Linked DNA regions of Homo sapiens: region 1 is linked to region 2. The links come from fine-mapping of genetic effects on gene expression. A gene starts in region 2. The other region holds a variant in brackets. All regions are shown on one strand. Distances are between the middles of the regions.

The links. PIP is the estimated chance that this variant, and not a neighbour inherited with it, causes the effect.
Region 1: its variant is fine-mapped to the expression of ZCCHC14 in whole blood (INTERVAL, PIP 0.98).

Annotation. Positions count from the first base shown.
Region 1 is chr16:87,455,296-87,466,945 of GRCh38, reverse strand. It overlaps ZCCHC14 (zinc finger CCHC-type containing 14), which reads left to right. Exons shown (of 13, transcript NM_015144.3): 2 at 6,815-6,938. Among named protein-coding and RNA genes, the nearest start is that of ZCCHC14, 32 kb to the left of the region's middle. RefSeq lists an enhancer at 8,574-9,773. The variant A/G (reference allele first, on the strand shown) is at 6,815.
Region 2 is chr16:87,485,845-87,497,494 of GRCh38, reverse strand. It overlaps ZCCHC14 (zinc finger CCHC-type containing 14), which reads left to right and starts at 4,471. Exons shown (of 13, transcript NM_015144.3): 1 at 4,471-5,826. The coding sequence starts at 5,257. ZCCHC14-DT (ZCCHC14 divergent transcript) reads right to left here and starts at 3,308. Exons shown (of 4, transcript NR_110943.1): 1 at 3,260-3,308. RefSeq lists a silencer at 4,353-4,532.

The DNA.
Region 1 (11,650 bases), 31 kb after region 2:
GTCCGTATTTGTAAAGAAACAAGGTGAGGAGGGCAGTGGCAGGCTGCCCCTCTGGTGGGCACGGTTAGATGTGACTGTCCCAGTAGGGGCTCCTAGCCATGGAGAGTGGAAGCCATCACAACTTCACTTTCTCCAGCCTCTAACTGGGAATTGAGCATTCCCTGCCTTTATGGAAGCAGGCAGGAATCCACAGTCATACGAACAGTACCTGTGACTTGGTCACAGATGCAGTCACAGATACTTTGATTGCACAGTCGTAGAAAGCGTCTTCAAGTCTCCTTCATGCTCAGCGCTCCTGTGAAGTGAGCTGAGACCCACAGACTCTGTTCGAGGAGCCCATTTGTCTTCTAATACTTAGATGACGGTTTTCAATATAATTGGCTTTGTTTGCAGTCCTGTGTATTTTATGCATTTAAAATATGTTTCTTAGAAGGGCTCAGTAGGTGTCATCGAACTGCCAGAGAGGTCGCTGGCACAAAGAAAAGGTTAAAACCCTGCTCTAAAAGCTCACTGCCGTTTTTCTGAGCAGTTTTCAAATGCCCACCAGTGGGGTGCAGCGAGTCTTCTGCAGACCGAGGCTGCCGTCAGTGTTGGGGGGCTGTGCTTCCATCTGACTGCGTCAGCACGTCCCACTTGGATGTCTTTGGAAGAGCTTTCAGGAAATAGATTTTTAGAAATTAATTCTCTTCTAAAAGTTATGGTCAGGTCCGTGAACATTAAAGTGGGTTGTAAGCACAGAGCTGTAAAGTAGCCTGTGTGGTGCTGGGTTTTTTTCTGTCAGGCGGCATGAACTAAGGACAAACCTTTTTTTAAAAAAAAGCGTAAATACCTGAGGCGGGGGGTAGTTAGCGGGGGTCACAACCTGCAGCCAGCGTCAGCTCTTCTGCAGGCGTAGCTCCTCACCCTTGCCTGGAAGGGCCTTTGATTCCCTCTGGTCTAATTGCGCAGTGCGGGGATTCCCTTTTCCATCCCATCTAAAGGGACGTTGCGGAGACCGGGCTCGGTGGCTCACGCCTGTAATCCCAGCTAAGGCGGGAGGATGGCTTGAGCCCAGGAGTTTGAGATCAGCCTGGGTAACATGGTGAGACCCTGGCTCTGTTTATTTTTTTTTAATAAAAAAATAAGAGGAGGCTGTTGAGCCTTTGACTGTTTTGATCATGGTGAAGATTTACCTTGAAATATTCATGCAGCAGCATTATCATGTGGGAGCTGGTTAGAAATGCAAGATTCTCAGGCCCACCCCGGACCTCATGAATCAAACCTGCGTTTCAGCCAGATCCGGAGGCATTTTGCACATTAAAGTTTGGAAGCAGAGGCCTCCTCTCTTTAAACTGTAACAGTAAGAAGGGTGATTGCATAAGAGCCAGAGGCGGGCTGCCCAAGTCCAGGTGCCCCTAGATGTGTGGCCACTGTGGAACCTCAGTCAGCTTTCCTGGAAGAGCCCCAGGGGCGGGTGTGCCCCGTGACTACCAGTAGCTTGCTTCAGAGTCATATTTCATTCCTGGGTTAGCGCTTTGTAGATGTGGTGGAACAATCTGATTGTCTGTTACATAATGTAGATTGCAGAAGTTTTTGTTTGAAATAGAAGTGCTTTCCGTTTGATTCTGAATTTCATTAAAATTTGGTGATATCATGATGTATTTTACAGATCCTTATTAACGGCCTGCTTCATGCCAGGCCCAGTTCGAAGTGCAAAGGAACAGCAGTGAACAAAGCAAACCAGAAACACAGCTGCCTTGCTGAGCATCGAGAAGTCTTGCTAAGAAGGACGTTTGAGTATAGATGGGAAGGCACAGGGGCGCTTCCAGGCAGAGGGGACAGCCAGGGCGAAGGCCCCAGGCAGATGTGACTGCTGTGCCCAGGGCAGCAGTGCATGGAGTGAAGAGCTGGGGGAGGACTGGATGCCAGGTTGCAGGGGCCAGGCAGAGGGTTTTTGTGGGTTGTGGGAAGAGGCTGGCTGTGGAGAGGAAGAGAGCAGCTTATCGTTGCCTTCCTAGCAGTAGCAGAAGGCAGCCTTTGGAGCCGGTCAGTCTTCCCTCTCGTGCACATCAGGCCAGATGACGAGTCCTGCGGGTGAGCCTGAGTCAGAGAGCACTTGAGTGGAACATAGGTCACGTGGAGCAAACTAACTTCACCAAAAATAACCCCAAAACAGCATTTCTGGGAAACACAAGTGAAGACAGCTTTCAATGTAAACAAAGGAACAAAGTTACGATAAAGGCTTGGTTGGAAAAAGTGAACATGTGGAAAACTAAGAAGAAATTCCTTGGGAAAATATACGGAGGAAAACAGGTCTTTCTTTTCCAGCAGTTGCCATTCTAAAGAGTTTTCCTTCCTGTCTTGATGTCAGATGCAGTGTGTGTTTTGCTAGGGTGGCTCACGGGCTTTCCCCTTCCAGTTGTGGTTGTGGCAGACGGACCTACAGCCTTTAGCTCTTCCTGTCTGCGTGGGGAAAAGACTTCCTGTTTTCTCTGGGTCTCCTCTTTGTCCTTGCCGGGATTGGACCGGATGATGGGTGCAGTATAAAACCTGGACTTGGGGTCGTGGTTGGTTCTTAGCCTAGCTGCAAATTAGAATCACCAGAGAAGCTTCAGGCACAAAACAAAAGAAGCCCCGTTTCCAGAAACTCTGATTTTGGTGGGGAGTGTGGGATGTGGTTTTCTCAGGGCCTTGGTGTTCCAGTGTGCTGTCGAGGCCGAGAAGCACTAATCAGTACTGCTCTCCTTCTCTCCAAGGCTGTGTTTTCCCCTGCTCAGCCCTCCTCTCCCCTTCCTCCCCTAGCAGGCTGAGAGTTGGGAGGCTGGCTTTCCTTTGTGTCTCTTTGGAGTGTTTTAGGGTGGGCAGGCGGTGTGTGTGTGCGAGAACGCACTGATCACACGTGTTTCTTTTTGGGGCAGGAAGGTTTGCCACTACCAGCAAAGTTGGAACTGCTGATGCTGGTTGTCAAGGCAGCTCACTCTCAGCTGTGCGTGCTGGTGTGCACCTGTGGTCCCAGTTACTCAGGAGGCTCAGGTGGAAGGATCACTTGAGCCCAGGAGGTCGAGGCTGCGGTGAGTTATGATTGTGCCACTGCATTCCAGCCTGAGTGACAGAAGAGACTCTGTTTGTTTTTTTTTCTCCTGAGACGGAGTCTTGCTCTGTCACCCGGGATGGAGTGCAATATGGTGTAATCTCAGCTCACTGCAACCTCCACCTCCCGCGTTGAAGCGATCCCCCTGCCTCAGCCTCCCGAGTAGCTGGGATTACAGGTGCCCGCCACCACACCTGGCAAGTTTTTGTATTTTTAGTAGAGACGAGGTTTCATTCACCATGTTGGCCAGGCTGGTCTCGAACTCCTGACCTCAGGTGATCTGTCCGCCTCGGCCTCCCAGAGTGCTGGGATTACAGACGTGAGCCACCGTGCCCAGCTGAGACTCCGTCTCTTAAAAAAGAGAAAAGGCAGCTCACTTTCTCTTCTTAGAACCAGGACTTAGAATATGTACCAAAGTAGCTAAGAGAATGTGGAGGTTCATGCATCAGGCCAAATCGAATGGGCTCTGCTGTGGTTATATTTCTTTTGTTTTCTTGAGACAGGGTCTCGCTATCGCCCAGGCTGGAGTGCACTGATATGATCATACCTCACTGCAGCTTCAAACTCCTGGGCTCAAGCGATGCTCCCACCTTAGCCTCCCAAGTAGTTGGGACTGCAGGCACAGGCCACGACACCCAGCTAATTTTTGTGTTTTTGTAGAGATGGGGGTCTCAATATGTTGCCTAGGCTGACCTTGAACTCGTGGCCTCAAGTGATCCTCCTGCTTTGGCCTCCCAAAGTGCTGGAGTTACAGGTGTGAATCACTGCACCTAGCTGTGTTTCTTTTTTCTTTTTTTCTTTTTCTTTGAGACAGAGTTTCACTCTCGTTGCCCAGGCTGGAGTGCAATGGCGCAATCTCGGCTCCCTACAACCTCCAACTCCGGGGTTCAAGCGATTCTCCTGCTTCAGCCTCCCCAGTAGCTGAGATTAGAGGCGTGCGCCACCATGCCTGGCTAATTTCGTATTTTTAGTAGAGACGGGTTTCACCATGTTGGTCAGGCTGGTCTCAAACTCCTGACCTCAGGTGATCTGCCTGCCTCGGCCTCCCAAAGTGCTGGGATTACTGGCGTGAGCCACTAAGCCTGGCCTCGGCCGTGTTTGTTTTTTTTCTTTTTTCTTTTTTCTTTTTTTTTTTTTTGTGAGATAGAGTCTCTGTCGCCCAGGCTGGAGTGCTGGGGCGCGATCTCGGCTCACTGCAAGCTCCACCTTCCGGGTTCACACCATTCTCCTGCCTCAGCCTCCCGAGTAGCTGGGACTACAAGCACCCGCCACCATGCCTGGCTAATTTTTTGTATTTTTAGTAGAGACGGGGTTTCACCGTGTTAGCCAGGATGGTCTTGATCTCCCGACCTTGTGATCCACCTGCCTCGGCCTCCCAAAGTGCTGGGATTACAGGCGTGAGCCACTGCACCCGGCCTTGGCTGTGTTTCTTGTACAGTTAATGTGTTAACCTCCTGAGTTGTCTTGCAAAGTAATATGTACTGTTTGGAACTAAAAATCTCCTTGTGTAAGATTTGTATCGTACTTGTATCGGTTCTATTATCTTGTTTAGTGGGAAAGGAGTTCATTTCTGGGTTCTCTAACCATAGAATAATGAAAGAGACTTTGTTAAATCGGAAGGAAATCACCCAATTTAAATTACAAATATAAGAAATTCAAAAAATTTTATTTTCTTGATAACATGTTATTAAGTTATCCAAAGAATTGACTTTCTGGAGGAGTTGCTGCATGGCTAGGACTTTTTTTTTTTTTTTTACTTTTTTAGAAATTTAAATAGAGACAGGGTCTCGCTGTTACCCAGGCCAGTAACAAACTCATAGTTTCAAGCAGTCCTCCTGCCTCAGCCTCCCAAAGTGCTGGGATTATAGCCATGAGCTGCTGCGCCCGGCCTTATTTTCTCGAGTTACATAAACTTCCCAATTATGTAGCCCTGTGACAAGTTGCTTTTCTTGGAAGGCATCTGTTGAGCCGCGTGGGATCTGTTAGTCCCTCTCCCTGCATGAACAGCCCAGGAGGGCTTCTTGCTGGGGGGCAGGGGCATTGACAGAGCTGGGATCAGAGGATCTCGCTATGGACTTGGGTGTGGCCCCTGTGGCTTGCTGTCTGTGGAATACAGCAGGTGCTGGTCCTGCCGGAGTGGCAGCAGTCTCCACCCTTTCCTCCCAACTCCAGCTTCCGCCTCCACTTTCATCCTGTCTGAGGTCGAGGCCACGCCTACCTGGCCAGCCCTCTGCAGAGCGAGTGCTGGGATCTGTGCTTGTGAGTGAACTTAGGGGATGTTTTGGTCAACTGCCACCTACCGTCCAGGTATGAGATGAAAGAACAAGTGGAGGCTGGAGAGGTCAGGCCATTTTCCAGGCTGCTTGTGCCATGTACTTTCCCATACTGTGAATGCAGCATTGCTTATCAGCTCTTTTGATGAACTTTAAAATCTTACGCCTCTCATATCCTCCGAAATTTTGAAATACATTGAGACTGTAAAGAAGTTACAGCATTGGCCATTTTTATTCTTCTAAATCCTATAAGTTATAAATGTGTTTTGGCTGTGAAATTTTAAAATACTGATGGGGAGGGAATGAAGGTTATTGCTACCCCCCTCCTCTCGCCCCTCTGGGCCCCTTCCGGCTTATTCCACATTCACACCATCACTGAACCCAGGAAGCAGGAGGGGTGGGACGAGCCTGGCTAGCCCGTGGCTTGTTTCTGCGCTTGTTGTGTGTTGGGAGCACTGGTGGTCAGGAGGGCCTCCCCCACCCACAGCTTGGGGGCGGCCGTCACCTGCAGGTACACTGTCTGTGCTTAGCAGGTCTCTGTCGATGGGGACTGAGGGTGTGCCCCGCTTTCCCTGTCACAGACACTCCTGCAGTGGGCACACCCCATCAGGTCATTTTCTCACGTGTGAGTACTTGGTATGGTGAATTCCTAGAAATGGAATTGGGATGTAATTTTAGGATATGCTTTTTCAAACTGTACCCCAAATAGACCGAGTTGTATTCTGTTCTTTGCTGTTGTTTTTAAAGCATTTTATGATTTAAGATTTATAGAAGGAGAATGTTAAGTCCTGCTGTGTAATTCGTTTTATAGGGAGCTATTTGATTTGAAGAAATATGAAAATAAAAGTTTGCCTCAAATAAAAATATATAATTCATGCCACCTTGGCTAACATAGTTCCTTTTTTTTTTCTTGGAGATAGAGCCTTACTCTGTTGCCCAGGCTGGAGTGTAGTGTCACCATCTTGGCTCACTGCAGCCCCTGCCTCCTGGGTTCAAGTGATCCTCCCACGTCAGCCTCCCGAGTAGCTGGGACTATAGGCACTTGCCATCACGCCTGGCTAATTTTTGTATTTTTAATAGAGATGGGGTTTCACCATGTTGGCCAGGCTGGTCTTGAACTCCTGGGCTCAAGAGATCCACCTGCGTCAGCCTCCTAAAGTGCTGGGATAACAGGCGTGAGCCACCGTGCCCGGCCTCTTTGGCTACCATAGTTTCTGTGCACCCGATGAACCCCAGCCACAAGACGTAAGCGCCCGTGTTTGACTCAAGTTATCTGAGCTCTTTTGCACTTTCAGTGGAGAGTAGTAGGTGAAATTTTCATCTTTCTTGGGGAAGGCTTATTATTATAATAATACATGTTTTGTAGAAAAATGGAAACCAAGGTAATTATGAAAGACTTAATTAACAAATAAAATTGTCCCCTATTAACTCCGTGGGAGAAAATAAGATGATTCTGTTTCTGTTCCCTCAG[A/G]TCACTCCAAGAACTGAGGCCCCTGTCAGCAGTGTCAGTAATAGTTTGGAGAATGCCCTGCACACATCAGCACATTCCACGGAGGAGTCGCTGCCCAAGAGGCCCTTAGGAAAACACAGCAAAGGTGAGTGCACGCACGGGTTTCAGGAGGACGTCTGACGGACGGAGGATGGGCACACCCCAGATCCCCGTGAGGGCATTGTTAAATGCTTTCAGATCTTTCATAAATGCCAATCTTATGTGTATTTTTCTAAATTCTATAAGCAATACATGAATATGCTTTGGCTGTAAAAATCTCAATTATTGATGTTTTTTAAGGAGAAGTCCAGACGTGGTTTCTCACACCTGTAATCCCAGCACTTTGGGAGACTGAGGTGGGCGGATCACCTGAGGTTGGGAGTTTGAGACCAGCCTGACCAACATGAAGAAACCCCATCTCTACTAAAAATACAAAATTAGCTGGGCGTGGTGGCGGGCATCTGTAATCCCAGCTACTCGGGAGGCTGAGGCAGGAGAATCGCTTGAACCCAGGAGGCGGAGGTCGTGGTAAGCCAAGATCACGCCATTGCACTCCAGCCTGGGCAACAAGAGCAAAACTCCGTCTGAAAAAAAAAAAAAAATTAGCCAGGCCTGGTGGTGCACGCTTGTAATCCCAGCTACTTGAGAGGCTGAGGCAGGAGAATTGCTTGAACCCAGGAGGTGGAGGTTGCAGTGAGCCGAGATCGTGCCACTGCCCTCCAGTCTGGGTGACAGAGTGAGATTACATCTCAAAAAAAAAAAAAGGGTGGGAGGAATAAGTTTTACACCCTCCTCCCCACCCCACATGGAAATCATCCTTAACCACTAGAGCGGTGTTGTCCTGAAGCGCTCTCTGTGGTGACGGAGTGTTTTCCACCTGCACTGAGTTGGTTGTCAGCAGCCACACGTGCCTTCCGCGCACTTGAAACATGGCTAATGTGACTGGCTACCTGAGTCTTTATTTTTCTTTAACGTACACGTGGACAGCTCAGCGTGGGTAGTGAGGCGCGGCCTGAGCCCCTGTGGCTCTGCACGCCAGCCTCTGCCGTGTTATGATCAGCTGCAAAGTTGGTAACCATGCCATAGTAGTGGAGGCTTTGGGGAGGGGAGAGTAAGGTGGTTTGTAGGACTAGATGGACCAGATAATGCATACCCGGTAAAATAAATGCTTGTGTGGTTTGCAGAATCGTCAGTAGTGGGGAGACAGAGACCAGGGTGGCGCTTTCCAGTGGGGTCACTGGTCCTGAGCCCCCATGGCATAGAGGTACCGAGGCCGGCTGTGTCCGCATCTGCTGGCCTCTATTCTCCCTGTGTTATTTACAAAGATGTTTGTCTCCTAGCAGGTGCGCCACGTGAGGCCCAGAGCCGCACTCGCTCACCCTGTGCGCTCTCCCCCAACCGCCCCGCACCGTCCCCGTCCCTGGCACGGCGCTTCGTGCCTTCCACAGGCTTCATAACTGCTTTGTTTCTAAAGTCCCGTTCTGACAACGCCATCGAGAGCCACCTGTCTCTGATTTAGATCCTAACTCAGGAAGGACCCATTTCCCCAGCAGCTGCAGCCTCTGTTGATGTAATGAGCACGGTATGGTATGGAGACAGTAACTCCTTACTGCAGCCCTGCGAGGGCTCCTGTCCCCACTTGACCCTCGTAGCAACCCCCTGAGGTCGCAACAGTCTTTGTCTTATCCACTGCTCTTGGGAGGGTCTGTGGCTCTTGGTTGAGCGTCTTCACCGCACCCTCATCCTGGTGATGCCGCGATGCTCCAACCCCAGAGCGGACACTTGGCGTCGGAATTGCAGGGAGTCCCTCCGCTGTAGAAAGGGCTCCTCCTCTTCCTTCCCCCATGCCATCCCAGGAGAAAGGCCTGCCGTGGAGTGCCGCTTCCTTTGTCCCCAGACAGTCCAGCCTAGGAACCTGTGCCCTGCACACCCTGTGAATCTTAAGGGATGGACCCTTCAGTGCTTTTTCTTCAGGATGTAATTATTGACATCCCCATTCTTTTTTTTTTTTTTCTGTATAATTTCAAAGTAGCGAGTATCTGTCATTGTCTCGTCTGCATGCTTTGGTGCCCAGAGAGACAGAGGGTGAGCTGACTCTCATGTGAGCTGTGGCAAAGCCTGCGTAGGCTGGCGGGTCGGCTCTGAGGCCACGAGTGGTCATTCTCAAACCCCACAGTGCTTAAAATACCGCAGCGAGCAGACGCTCTTAATTACCTGCAGCATTCTCCATTCATTAGTCATAGAGGGTCGCGGTTTCTGTTGTCCGGAAATTGGCAAGTGAGTTAACTTGGTTTTCTTAGTCACTTTTCATGTGAATCCTTTTAATATTCTGTTGGGTGCAGGTTATTGCCCTTCAGAAAGTCTAAAGTCACAGTAAGTTGTATAGTTTTATTACTATAAAGTTTTCTCTCTGTCTTTTCTGTATCCTACTTCTGTTTTGGTTTTTCTCTGCTTCTTCAGAAGTCTTACAGTGATACAGTTTAATTTATAGAGTGGTCAGACATTTAAAAAATTTCTTAGTATGTAAAAGGTTAGGGAAGCTTTTATATACTTGAACAACAGTCCAAGCACATGACTAACTTACATGACAGATACTGACTTACATCATCTTCATAACAGCCCTTTGAGGGCTGATTATACCTATTTAATTCTAACTGATCCCATGTGGTGATTTTTACCCCATTTTACAGATGGGAGAACTGAGTCACAGATAAGAAATTTTCCTGAGGTCAGCTGGGATTCAAAGCCAGAGCTAATGCTCTTAACCCTGTGGCTGGCTGAAGAAAATAGCAGAGGAAAAGAAAGGTGGGACTGTACTGAAAGTGGAAAACACACCGTTGTGTGGGCAGTGCCTATGAGTACACATTAACCAGTGAAATCATTCCTTTTTTTCCTGACCTATTTATTGTGAACATTTTCCAGTTCAGGAGTAGAGATTGTAGCCTAGTAAACCCCGTACCCAGTGCCTGGCTGCAGCTCCAGGTCACTGTGTGTGGCTTCTGAGCCCCCTGCCCCTCGTGGGTGTGGCTGAGAACTGCGGTGCACTCTCCAGCGCTCCAGTCCCTGTGTTGATGATTTACTGAAACTTAGGGAAGCTGTTGTAGTGTACAAGCTGAGATGGAAACTGCTTTTACTAATACTCTCAACAAAGTAAGTTCTGTAACTTTGGACTTTGAGGAATTATAATTTTTTAAAGTTTTCTTTTTGTGAGACAGTGAAGGAGGTATACTTTCATTAAACTTGTTTATATACCAGTAGTTTTCAATCTTTTTGGTCTTAGGACCCCTTTGCACTCTTAAAAATTAGAGATTCCAAAGAATCCATGTTTATGTGGGTCACATCTATAGGTATTTACCATATTATCGATTAAAACTGAGTTTTTAAAAATTATTTTAAATGAATGTTTTCCATTGTGTGCCCCTGGGGTTTGTGTTTGCCATGCAGCGTTGTTACAGCTGAAGAGAGCTAAAGACCAAACTCCAAAACAAAATCTATCCCAACCAATTAGAACATGAATTCTAAGAAGACAAGAATTCACCTAAAATCTAAATTTTTTTTTTTTTTTTTTTTTTTTTTTTTTGGAGACAGAGTCTTGCTCTGTCGCCCAGGCTGGAGTGCAGTGGCGCAATCACAGCTCACTGCAACCTCCGCCTCCCGGGTTCACGCCATTCTCTTGCCTCAGCCTCCGGAGTAGCTGCTGGGGCTACAGGTGCCGGCCACCACGCCCGGCTATTTTTTTATATTTTTAGTAGAGACGTGGTTTCACCGTGTTAGCCAGGATAGTCTCGATCTCCTGACCTCGTGATCCGCCCGCCTCGGCTTCCCAAAGTGCTGGGATTACAGGCGTGAGCCACTGCGCCCAGCCCTAAAATCTAAATTCTAAAATGCCCACAGTCTGTGGCCTTTCCTGGGTTGTGCTGGGATTCCAGTGTGTAGCCGAAATCGAGAAGCCTTGATAGTTTCAATTTCCTTATGGGTTCTTTATCTAACATTTTATTATGAGGACTTTGAAACACACGGTAAAGTTGAAAAAGTTTCACAGTGAGTACCCTTCACCTAGATTAGACAGTTCCATTTTACCGCATAGATGCTTTTCAACTTACAGTGGGGGCTGCAAGTTGAAAATACCACAAGTTGCAATGCAGTGAATACACCACACCTGCTACACATCATGGCTTAGCCTAGCCTACCTTAAATGTGCTCAGAACGCTTGCATTAGCCTGCAGGTGGGCAAAATTATCTAACACACAGCCCACTTCATAGTGAAGTTTTGACTCATGTAATCTATTGAGTCTGTACTGAAAGTGGAAAACAGAATGGTTGTATGGGCGCTCGAAGCAGTTCCTTCTGAATGCATGTTGCTTTTGCACTGTTGTAAAGTCGAAAAATCGTCAACTCCAGCCATCTTCAGTCAGGGACCATCTGTACTTACTATTTTTAAGCTGGTTGCCTGTAGCATTCCTCAGCCACGGATTCTGATTTGAACCCCAGGGCACAGAGAATCATTTGAGTGATGGTTTTCTCAATTTCCCTGAAGAAAATGTGATTAGAGACACAGGAGGAGTCAAGTTCTTCATCGTAGAAGAGCTTCTGTAGGACGCTAGGACTTTGCGCCCTCTATGAGCCCCCCATTTAAGAGAAGCAACAGGAATGCACTACACATCTTTACCTTTTCAGGCTCTACTCTGAGTTAATGTTGAGCCACTCCATGTGACACAGAAGCCTCTTGTCACTGTGTTGTTCATTGGGGTGCCGAGGCCAGCTCATGGTATCTCCTGAGAGCCAGTCGTTCACTTTCCAGTATTTTTTTTTGCGGGG
Region 2 (11,650 bases):
TGGGAGGGGCAGAGTCTATGGGCAATTGACTTAGGGCAGAATCCAATTCCAACATGAACTAACTGTGTGGCCCGGGCTGAAGCCCTTGACCATTCAGTATCTGCGTGATGGGAATTCAGTATCAGAAACAGCTCCATGGGGTTTTGTCAATTACACGAGGCTGTCAGGCACCGAGGCCTGGAGCCAGGACCCCATCAGGAAATTTAGGGATCCACTGGATTTATGGCCTCCATGCTCAGGGTGTCAGGTCCCAAACCTTCTCAATGACAGGAAAGCAGGAGTCAGGCCAAGGGAAGGAAGCGCACGTTGCAGCTAGAGACCACACACACCTTGGCAGCACCCCAGGGAGAGACAATTCCCTGCCGCGCCGGGCTTCTCTGCGCACTTCCAGCCCCAATCACTTAAGGAGCCCCTGTCCCACTCTGAGTCTTCTTCTGAGGCCTCTGTTGGTGTTGTCCTGCTCCTGGCTTGGCCTCCAGATCCCTCCTCTCGTGGGGTCCTAGGTCTGAAGGAAAAGCAAGATGGTGGCAGTCTGGGGGAAGAGCATGTGCTTGGGGTCCCTGTGGCCCATTTCTGGGCTTGGCCTGGTCACCTGCTGCAGTCGGTATCACTCATTCAGAACTAAGCAGTAACGCCAGGCGGGTCATGTCCTTCTTGTAAAATTGTTTGTTTGGGGAATTTGTGGTGAACTCCAAATCTCTCTCTCTCTCTCACAATTGATACTATTAGAGTCATTTGTGCTTGATTGCAGCTCTGTGGAAGGGACAGCCCCCACTTCTCCCCTCGCCTCTTTGTGGTTATTTGTAGGGCAGTCACAGGAAACCAATAAAATGGCATTTCCCCCTAAACATGAGTGTGGCTCTCAGCGCAACCCAGTTTACAATAAATAGTCTATCCTTGCCCTATAGGACCAGGCCTCAGGAAGGGCTTGGGGGCCTCAGAGGCAAATGACACCCAGCCCTTCAACCCTGCACAACCACAGACCTCACACCCAGTGGTAGCCAATTTGGCTGAACAGCACCCTAGACTGTGGGCTCCCCCTGGTGCTGGGCCCCCTCACAAGGAGGCAGGGCCCACCCTCCTGATCTAGCCTGAGCCCCTGAGTCCTCTCCCAACCTCCTCCCAGCGATCTCAGCCGCTCCAGCAAGGCGTGGGGCTGCTGTCCTTCAGCTGCCTCCCTCTCCAGAGGAGGAGAGGCGGCAGATGTCGAGGCAGAGGTGGAGAAAAGCTCCTGGCACGCTTGCAGCTGGGGTTACCTTGTGCACGGGCAGAGTCAGGGAAGCGGGAGACAGTAGGTGCCCTGTGTGGAAAACCAGAATCTCGGGGCCAGGACCCAGAGAATGCTGGAGGGCCCGGGAGGTCAGCGTCTGCCCTCTCCTTATGAGGGAGGCCCCCTCCTTCAGGCAGCCTGCCTGCTTCAGAGTGGGGAGTCCAGGTTGTCAGTTCTGTAGGGTCGATGGACCTGGTCTCATTTGCCTCTGAGGCCCCCAAGCCCTTCCTGAGGCCTGGTCCTGTAGGGCAGGGATTTCATATTTGTTGTGAACTGGATTGAGCTGAGCCACACCGATGTCTGGGGGGATATGACATTGTTTCGGTTTCCCTGGCTGCCCTACAAGTAACCACAACACGCGTGAGTGAGGGAGGGGTGGGGAGATGGGGGTAGGGGAGGGGTGGGGGGGGGGTGGGAGATGGGGATGGGGGAGGGGTGGGAGATGGGGGTGGGAGAGGGTCGGGGGGTGGGGGAGGGTGGGGGTTGGGGGTTGAAAACAATAGCAACTTACCCTCTCACAGTTCTGGAGGCCAGGAGTCCAAAGTCAAGGTGTGGGCATGGCTCTGTTCCCTCTGGAGGCTCTAGGGGAGGGTCCTCCCTGTCTCTTGCAGCCTCTGGTAGGCCCAGGCACTCCTTGGCTCCAATCTCTGCCATTCTTGCACATAGTCTCCTTTCCCCCGAAGTCTCTATGTGTTCTTTTCTGTATCTTGTAAGGACAGTCTCATTGCATGTAGGGCTCACCTTAATTCAGTGTGATTTTATCTTGACTCTTACCTTAATTATATCTGCAAAGACTCTTTTCCCAAATAAGGTCACATTCTGAGATTTGGGGTAGAGATAAACTTTGGGGGGACATGATTCAACCTACTAAGCCATTAAATCACAAAGAGCACGCAAGAAGGACCAAAAAGGCAGCGGGAAGTGGGGAGGACCTTGATCCAAGGACTTCCACAGCTCAGGCCTCCCTTGTTCCAGCCAGCAAGGGCTTTCCATGAGCACCTTTGACTTCCACTGCTAGCCAGGATGACGGGTTCCTGGCTGTCTTCTACAGATGAGGAAACTGAGGCTCAGAGGCCTCTGAATGCATAGCCAAGTTCACACAGTCAGCCACAGCTGGGACTGGAGCTCACTTGGTACCAAAGCCTGGGGGTTTCACAGCCAGCTCGGCTGGATTGAAGAAGCCCCACCCCCACCCCCAGCACTAATGAGGTTCCAAGATCTTTCTCCAAGGAGCTTGCTTTATCAATAAGAAATGAATCTTTTGTTTTGTTTTGTTTTTGAGACAGAGTCTTACGCTGTCACCCAGGCTGGAGTGCAGTGGCGGGATCCCCATTCACCGCAACCTCCCTTTCCCGGGCTCGGGCAATCCTTCCACTGCAGTCTCCCAAGTACCTGGGACTACAGGCACATGCCACCACATCTGGCTAATTTTTGTAGTTTTTGTAGAGATGGGATTTCGCCATGTTGCCCAGGCTGGTCTCGAACTCCTGGGCTCAAGGGATCTACCCTCGGCCTCCCAAAGTACTGGGATTACAGATGTGAGCCTCTGAGCCCAGCCAAACTGTCTTGATGTTCACGTTCTTTCACTACCTTAGATTATGAATTTTGGAATGTGGCCAGTTCCCTGGAATCACATTAAGAAGTGAGGTCCAGGACAACGACGATTAATTTAATTATTAATAGAAATCAGCCTAGACCTGGGAAATAAGATGAGGAGACCCAACTGTCCCCAGCCTTGCCCTTGTGCCCATGTGGGAGGCCATCCTGACTCCATTTAGATTTTTGCTTCTTCCTACACTGACAAAGAACACTGGGGCAGCTCCAGGGAAATGTGCCCAAGGTGTGGAGGGGGCTGGGGGAGTGGAGAGCAATTTTTTTTGTTCCCAACCATGCCTTTCTGCAATCTCTGTTCATCCTCGAAGACCTAAGACTGGAGAATGTGGGGTTTGTTTGTTTTGGAGCGACTGGGGCGGGGAGGGGGGGTCTCACCATGTTGCCCAGGTTGGTCTTAAACTCTTGGCCTCAAGCGATCCTCCTGCCTCGGTCTACCCAGTAGCTGGAACCACAGGCGTGCCAGATTCGGCTGAAGAGTTTTGTTAGGAAGTTTTCAGCACCTTGGACCATATCCTGAAAAAGTTCATTCATTGATTTAACCAATCTCTAGTGTGCACTGCCCAGAACCAGAGTGTAAGCTCCACAGGGTAGGGAGGGCGCCAGCTTTGCTCTCAGCTGCCCCCGGGCGCTTGGGACCTGGAACCCATGAATGAACAGACCCCGTTCTAGATCAACAGACATTCAAAGCAGCGCTCTAGGGGAAGGGCAGGGGAGGAATGAGCGTCCAGCCCCCGCGGCTCTACTTCTATGCCTGTGTGTAAGTGGTGGGATTTAAAGGTGGTTGGGTGCACCGGCCCTTCCCCCACCTGCAATCCGGTGCCAATGCAAGTGCCAGGGGAGGGTGGCGTTTCTGTTTACTTCCAGCCAGGTCAGCTCCCTTGCCCCCTCCCCTGTGTTTGCATTTTCTGCGTTTGGCGAGCTGGTGAAGTAGCCGCGGAAAGAAGGCGGATTTAAAGGCTCCATTTGGACGAGGCTTTTGGAGAAAGCTTGCACCTCCCATCACACCCCCAGGGCAAGTCAGCCGCCTCAAAAGTGCCGGTGCCGGCCCTCTGTGAGCTCAACACCTTCGCACAAACCTCGGGGGCGGTTATTATTACCCTCTTTTTCCCGGGGAGGCGCCTGGGGCTCAGAGAGGCCAAGTGACTCGCCCAAGGTCACACAGCTTTGCAGTGGCCGACCCGGGATTGGAACCCGGGGCTCCGGACCCCGCGGCGGCCGTTTCTCGAAGATACCCACTACCTCCCTCTTACACCGCTCAAAAATAAAGCAGGAAGGCCGAACGCCCCGTTTTCGCCGAAAAACAATGCTCCACGCAAATTTGCGGGAACAAAAGCAACCAGAAATCCAGCCCGGGTTTTCCGCCTCTCCGATTCCGCGGACCAATCGCGTCTTGACGGCCGCCGAGGGACGGGAGGCGGTGGCCCCAACATGATCGACAGCCCCCAGGGAGGCGTGGCCGCGGAACGGGCGAATGGGATTGGGGACCCGGCACAATCACGGGCCGAGAACGGGCCGCCTGAGCCAATCAGTGGGGGGGGGACGGGCCCGGCAGGCCCGGGCTGTCGCGAGAGGCGGCCACCCCGCCCACTTCTGCTGATCCCGGCCGCCCGTCAGCCGCGAGCGCGACGATCCCTCCGCTCCTCGGCCGGCGCCTCCTCCGCCGTCGCCGTCGCCGTCGCCGTCGCCGTCGCCGCCGCCGCCGCGCTCGGGCCCGGATCCGTCCGCCGCGCGGGAGCAGCAAGGCCGGCAAGTCCCGGCCGGATCCCTCCGCGCCTCCCGCCGCGCGTCCCTCCCCCTCCAGCGTCCGTTTCGCGGCCGCGGCCCCCAGCGCTCCCCAGGCGGCGACGCCGCGCCCGCGGCCCGGGGTAACGGCCGGCCTGGGCGGAGGCGCGGGCGGCGGCGACGGCATGGCCGGGGCGGCTCCGTCGGGGGGCGGCCCGCAGTGACAGACCCTGCGGCGCGGGGGGAGATGGGGGCGGCCGCCTCCCGGGCGACGACGACGACGACGACGAGGAGCAGCCGCCGCCGCCGCCGCGCACCGGCCGCCGCTGGGCACGGGCGCGGGGAAGGCGCCTCCCCGTGAGCGGGGGGCCCGAGGCCGCTCGCCGCCCCCGGCCGCCCCGGCCGCCCCGGGCCCCCCCGGCGCCCCGCGCGCGCCCGCCCGCCGGCCCCTGACGGGAGCCTTGCCCGGCCCCGGTCCCCGCCCCCGCCCCGGCGCCCGCCCGGCCCGCGGCGCCCGCGCGCCCTCGCCCGGACCCGGCCCCGGCCCGCGCGTCCCCGGTCCCGGCGCGCCCCGGCCGCGGCCCCCGGCGCCCCCCGGCCGCCCCCGCGCGGTCCCCGGCCCCGGGTCGCGGCGCGGCGCGGGCGGCAGCATGGTGGAGAAGCGCTGCCCGCTGCAGAGGGACGGCGTGTACCGCTGGTTCTCGGAGCTGCCGTCGCCGCAGCGCGTGGAGTTCCTGTGCGGCCTGCTGGACCTGTGCATCCCGCTCGAGCTTCGCTTCCTCGGCTCGTGCCTGGAGGACCTGGCCCGCAAGGACTACCACTCGCTGCGCGACTCGGAGATCAAGGCCAACAACCCGGCCGACCTGGGCAGCCTCACCAACCTGACGGACGAGGTGGTGCGCAGCAAGCTGCTGGTGTCGCTGGCGCTGCTGGGCTCGGAGCAGCGCGAGGCGGCGGGCGTGCTCTACCGCACGCTCACGCACATCGACTCCATCATCCACAACTACGGGCTGCAGCTTAACGAGGGCCGCACGGGCGATGAGTTCCTGCTGCTGTTCACCATGGCCTCCAACCACCCGGCCTTCAGCTTCCACCAGAAGCAGGTGCTGCGCCAGGAGCTCACGCAGATCCAGAGCAGCCTGAACGGCGGCGGGGGCCACGGCGGCAAGGGCGCGCCCGGGCCGGGCGGCGCGCTGCCCACTTGCCCAGCCTGCCACAAGGTGCGTGCCCGCCCCGAGCTCTGCCCTGTACCCCAAGTCTGCATCCCCAACTCTGCACTCCAAGCCTCCAGCCTGCACCGCGACCCCCCGACCCACGCCTCCAGCCTGCACTGAGAGCTCCCACCCAGGTCTCCAACCTGCACCACGAGCCCCCAGCCCGTATCCCAAGCCCCATCCTAAGCCTCTATGTCGCACCCCAAATGTGTGCCCCACCTCTCCAAGCCTCCACCGTACATCCCAAGCCTCCGCCGTACATCCCAAGCCTCCGCCGTACATCCCAAGCCCCCATCCTAAGCCCGCACTCCTCACCCTAAGTCTGCACTTTAAGCCCCAAGACCGCACCGCGGCCCTGAGCCCACACCCTCAGTCCCCTCTGCGTGCCCCAAAGCCTCCACACCTCCGCCTCGCGCCCCTTGGGCAGGAGCGGCTGCAGGGGCCCTGGGTCCGAGGATCCGCGGGAGCGGTGCGGGAGACGTCCGCGGTCAGAGCTCACAGTCCCAGGTGCCCTCCTTTCACTTAGCCGGCTGCAAACGCGATAAGGCCTTTGTCCCCTTAATGGGGCCCTTGGGTGACAGATAACACACATTGCGGCGCCTTGGTTTCCCCAAATCTGGTATTTATTACCAGAAAAGGAAGGAGCCGTGGCCACGCCAGAAGCCGCCGGTGAGGTGAACATTGCAAGGCGCTGGGGCTTCCCCGTCTGAGCCGCTCCCTCCACACAGGTGGAGGCCCTGCTTGGGGCCTGTGTCGCTGGGGGCCTGGGCGCGGGACATGGCTGTCCGTGTGAGCTCATTTATGGACACGTGCATGCTGTATGATGTACGCGTGTGTCGCATGTGGGCATGTATATGTGCACACGTGTGTATGAATGTGCACATGCTTGTGAACGTTGTGTGTGATCGTTTTTAAGAGCCGGGCTACCTGTAACAGACAGAAAAAGACTCCCAGAGCCTTAAATGCCCGTGAAACCTATTTATTGGCGACCCTTAGAAACAAAACCCAGGCTGACTTTGAGTGGGAGGGCACCGATGCCTTAAGGAATGTTAGGTTAGGTTAAAGATCTCCGGTCTCCAAATTGAACCGGAAGGGCGTCCTGGCCATCCACTTAGCGATGTGAACTTTTGTCTAAGTGTTTCAGAACTGAAAACGCAAAGTGTCTGGGGCTCCAGCTATTTTGAACAGCCCCCTGCAATCCAGTGCCAAAATTTTGCTGCCGGAAGAGATTACTTTGACCTGGTGTGATGTGTATTTAGATTACAAACTGATTATTTTTTGGAAGGGAATAGGTTGCAGTCGGGACCAAGTCTTGCTCAGTGTCTCTTTGCAGTGTCTTTAAGCTCTTTGAAGTTAAAACTTTGATAAGACTTTGCTTTTATGAGTGGCTGAGAACACCGTCTGGTTTGCTAGGTTTTTTATGTGTGTGTTTTTAAAGCTGTCTTTCAATCGTAGATTGTGGCTTTTCTTTTTTAATGTCTTCCTGTAAGAAGTGGTTGTAGTACATACATCGGTTTTTTTAAATTGATTTTTGTGTGTGTGACATTTACCTCCAAGACTATAGTTTTCTTTTTAAGTTCGGCTCCCACCCTGTATTTCAGGCTGTGTGCTGTGCAGAGGGTCCTAGGAAATGTAGTTGTTTATAGTAATCCATGTAAGCCTTGACATGCCAGCAAATTGTCACCTATTCATGGAATCTCAGTCATTTATGGTCAGTTTCATGTGCTGTTACTCCTTTGTGTAGATTCCACCCACTAATAATTTCTATGGCTGTTGCTACAGTAACGTCATCTCTTTAAGGGGATTCTTAATGTGTGAGCACGGGTGCCTCACTTTATGCAGACAGTGGTGATTATTATTTTGATTGGGCAGTGAGCTAAATCTAGAACAAAAATGTCTTTTATAGGAGAGCCTTTCTGTGAAGCAGAAATCCCTTTGATGAGATGAAGGGGCTAATCTATTCCTCTCTGCTCACCCCTGCACCTCCCCCGCTACACCCCAGTCCCAAGGCCATGGGCGCTGAATTTACCAGCCGTGCAACCTTGGCCAGGATCCTTCTGCCCCTCAGTGTTGTCCCTGTTGCAGTGGAGGGGATGTAACCTACCTCACAGGCTTGTGTTGAGGATTACATAGGTAACATACATGAGCTTCCAGCAGAGGTGCAGTAAATGCTGCTTTCTCCTCTATGGCCTCTCCGGCTTTTAACATTCCTTTTTATAGAGGTTTGCTAACTTAAAGCAAGGCATGTTTTATAGATTGAATTATTTACATCTTGGCTATGAGCGTTTATGTGTTCTAAATTGGTTTTTGAGTAGTTACTTGGAGCTGACAATTTTTTTGTTTCATCTTTGGAAAACTGGAAGATTCTGTGACCCTTAATGAGAGGATTATTATAAGGAGTAACCTTGGGCTGTCATTTCCGTATTTCAAAACAACCGTGGTTTCTAGTTTTCCCTACATCCCTAGTGTCACTGCTAAGCTAATTTCAGCCCCATTCATTTAACTTTCGTTTCTGTTGCTGCTTCAAAGCTAAGGCTGACGTTGATGAACCCTTTATTGCTTGGAGCATGCAACTCAGATGAAATCTAGCATTTAAGTATTTTGCTTTCTTAGTTTCTAAATCTAACGTTTGGTGTATTCCTGAAAAAGCAGCCCCGTTAAAGCTGTCTGCATTCTTTTGTAAGCTGTTGTATTTTATTTTGAACTCTTTGAGCTTAGAGACTTTGTATTTTTCTTTTAGAGATACAAATGTCAATGGCTTTTTAAATTCTTTATCCAATTTGAATTTTTATTTCTTGGCCTGGCAAGGTGGCTTACGCCTGTAGTCCCGGAAGTTTGGGAGGTCAAGGTGGGCAGATCGCTTGAGCCCAGGAGTTCAACACCAGCCTGGGCAACACAGCAAAACCCTGTCTCTACAAAAAATACAAAAATTAGCCAGGAGTGGTGGCACACACTTGTAGTCCCTGCTACTTGGGAGGCCGAGGTGGGATGATTACCTGATCCCAGGAGGTAGAGGCTGTAGGTGAGGTATGATCATGCCACTGCATTCCAGCCTGGGTGACAGAGTGAGACTGTGTCTCAAAAAATTTTTTTTAAATTTATTTTAACTGTATTTTCCGAAATAGTCATTATTTGCAATTCCTTGTCCAAATCCTGTGTTTTTATTTAAAAATTCTTATTATTCTGAGGACTTCTAGAGGTGTAAAAGTGGGGGGAGTACAAAGTAGACATACCTGTATTTTACTTTCAGAAAGAAAAATACTTCCAGTAGCCACACTGATGGTAGGCTGAATTAGTTGTACTCTGCCTAGTGGCCGGTAATGCTGCTGCTTGCTGCTCCTGCAGTCGCCTGTTCCAGGGTGCCAACTGTGGGGGATAGTTGGCTTAGACTTTCCAATGCCTATTTTACGTAAATAAAAGACCATAGTTTTGGAAATAGTTAAAATAAATCCTTTGCGGCTTTTTCTTTGTGTCAGTGATAATTAATATGCTGTGGTATGTGCACATGCTTATTCTTGTTTAAAAAATAACAGCTTTATTGAAAGAGAATTCATATACTATATATACTTCACCCTTTTACAGTGAAGTCAGTGGTTTTTAGTATAGTCATATAGCTGTGCAAGCACGACCACTGCCACTGAACGTTTCCATCTCCCCAAAAAGAAACCCAGTGCCTATTAGGAGTCGCTCCCCATTCCCCCTCCCCCCAACCCTTGACCACCCCTTTTTGTCTCTATGGGTGTCTTTTTTGGACGTTGCATATAAGGGGACCACACACCGTGTGGCCCTTTGTGACTGGCTTCCTTCACTCGGTGTCGTGATGTCAGGGCCCGTCCATGCTGTGGGTGTGTCAGCACTTCCTCCTCTTTCGCTGCCGAGTGGCGTTCCCCTGTGTGAAGAGGCCGAGCTGTGCTCACGCATTCTTCAGCGGGTGGACCTTGGAGTTGCTTCACATGCTTGCTTTTGTAGACTTTTGTCTTCATGGTTAATAGGCTCTTTGTCTTCACCCCCGTGCACTGTGCCTAACACTTAGCGCATCCTCTGTGGACCGCTGGCGCACGTGTCGGTGCGGGGCTGTCCTGAGGGCTCCTGTTCCACCTGGTGGATTGCTAGGTGCCGTGTGCAGAGCTGTGTAGGTGTGGCCTCAGCCAGCCTGGGGAGCTGCAGCTGGAGGTGGCAGGGAACTCTGTGCTGTCAGTACAGAGCCTCCGGGCTGGTGCATTTGGTCAGCGACAGGTATGGGGGAGCAGGGCCTGGTGGGCAGGGGCGGGGCCCCGCCTGAGCTGCAGCTGTGAGGGCCCTGCCGTTTGTGTTTCAGCATCCTCAGGGTATGGATAATGAACTGCTTCATGGGGCTGATTTTTTTAAGGGGGTACTAAAAAAAATAACGTTTTTAAAGTTTTTGGTGCAGGAGTGTGGTGGGGTGGTGGTCTTCTTTAGGGGTAGGTTCTGTGGAACAGTTCTGGAACTCTCTGTGGCTTGCATTGTGAGTGCCTGAGGATAAGCACTGTGGAAACTTCAGATAGACACAAATACCGTGAATAAACCTGCTGAAAATGTCTGTCCAAAGATCAGCAACAGCTTTTGCTTCGTTGCTTTTCGTAAGCTGTTGAAAATCATTGCAGTTCAGAGGTGAAACATGGGATAGTTCATCCTCTGGTTATCAGGCAAAGTATAAGTGGTTTCTTTTGGTTTCTCCTTTAGCCCTAAACTCTGGGCCTATTGCAGCCAAGAGTCATCTAGCATTCCATAAGAACGGACTCTCTCTGGAGCAGCTGTTGTCACTGATGGTTAAAGGAATAGCTGTGACCTAAAAGCACTGTTTTGTCTCCATCTTTAACACTTGTTCTCCTGGGCAGCTGGGAACCGCCTGGTCTATGAACTTGTCTGTGAACTAAGTCTTCTGGCTGTCTTTGTATACATTGCTTTTTTTGTTGTTGTTGTTACATTACAGGAGATACAGGAGATAATATTCTAACACATAGTGGATCTTTTTTTATTTTTATTTTTATTTTTTGGCCAGCTGCTACAGGTCTAAAACACTGTCCTGTTTCATAGTAAAGTACAGTACATGATACGGGAATTGAGGCATACAGTCATGTGCTGCTTAAGGACACAGATACGTTCTGAGAAAAGCGTCCTCAGCTGATCTTGTTGTGTGAGCACCGCAGAGTGCACTTGCACAGACCTGGGTGGCAGAACCCGCTACACCTCTGGGCCACATTGTAGAGCCTGTTGCTCCTCGGCTGTAAACCTGTACAGCGTGTTACTGTACTGAATACCATAGGCAGTTGTAACCCAGTGGTATTTGTGTATCTAAACACAGAATAGGTACAGTAAAAATGCATTATTAGAATCTTAGAGGATCCCTGGTCCGTGTGGTCTGTCAGTGGTGGAAGCATCCTTATGCAGTGCGTGACCGTGCTGGGATGCAGTTCTGATTGCTTTCTTGGTGGTAGTATTTCTGTTGATGCCATGATGGAGCTGCAGTAGCACTGCCATCTACTGTGTAATGGCTTGGATTATGTGGTACTTTAATTACTGTCCTTTGCCCTCACATTAAATGAAGGCCATTTACTTTGACATGAGCTAGTTCACATTTGCCTCATTAGGTGAACACACATTTGAGTTTTGCTGTTTTCTACTGTGTTCTGGAGCACAGTTGTAGAAACTGGAAATTCTGTGTCATATTTGGGTATGATGAGTAATACGATGGTATCATTTGTTCAAGTGCGAAGATAACTGGAGATAGGCATCTGCGTTAGTCTTGTCACTGCAGGTGAAGCGTACTGTTTACTTAGGCTTTAGTTTACCCATTTTCTCTTTAGTC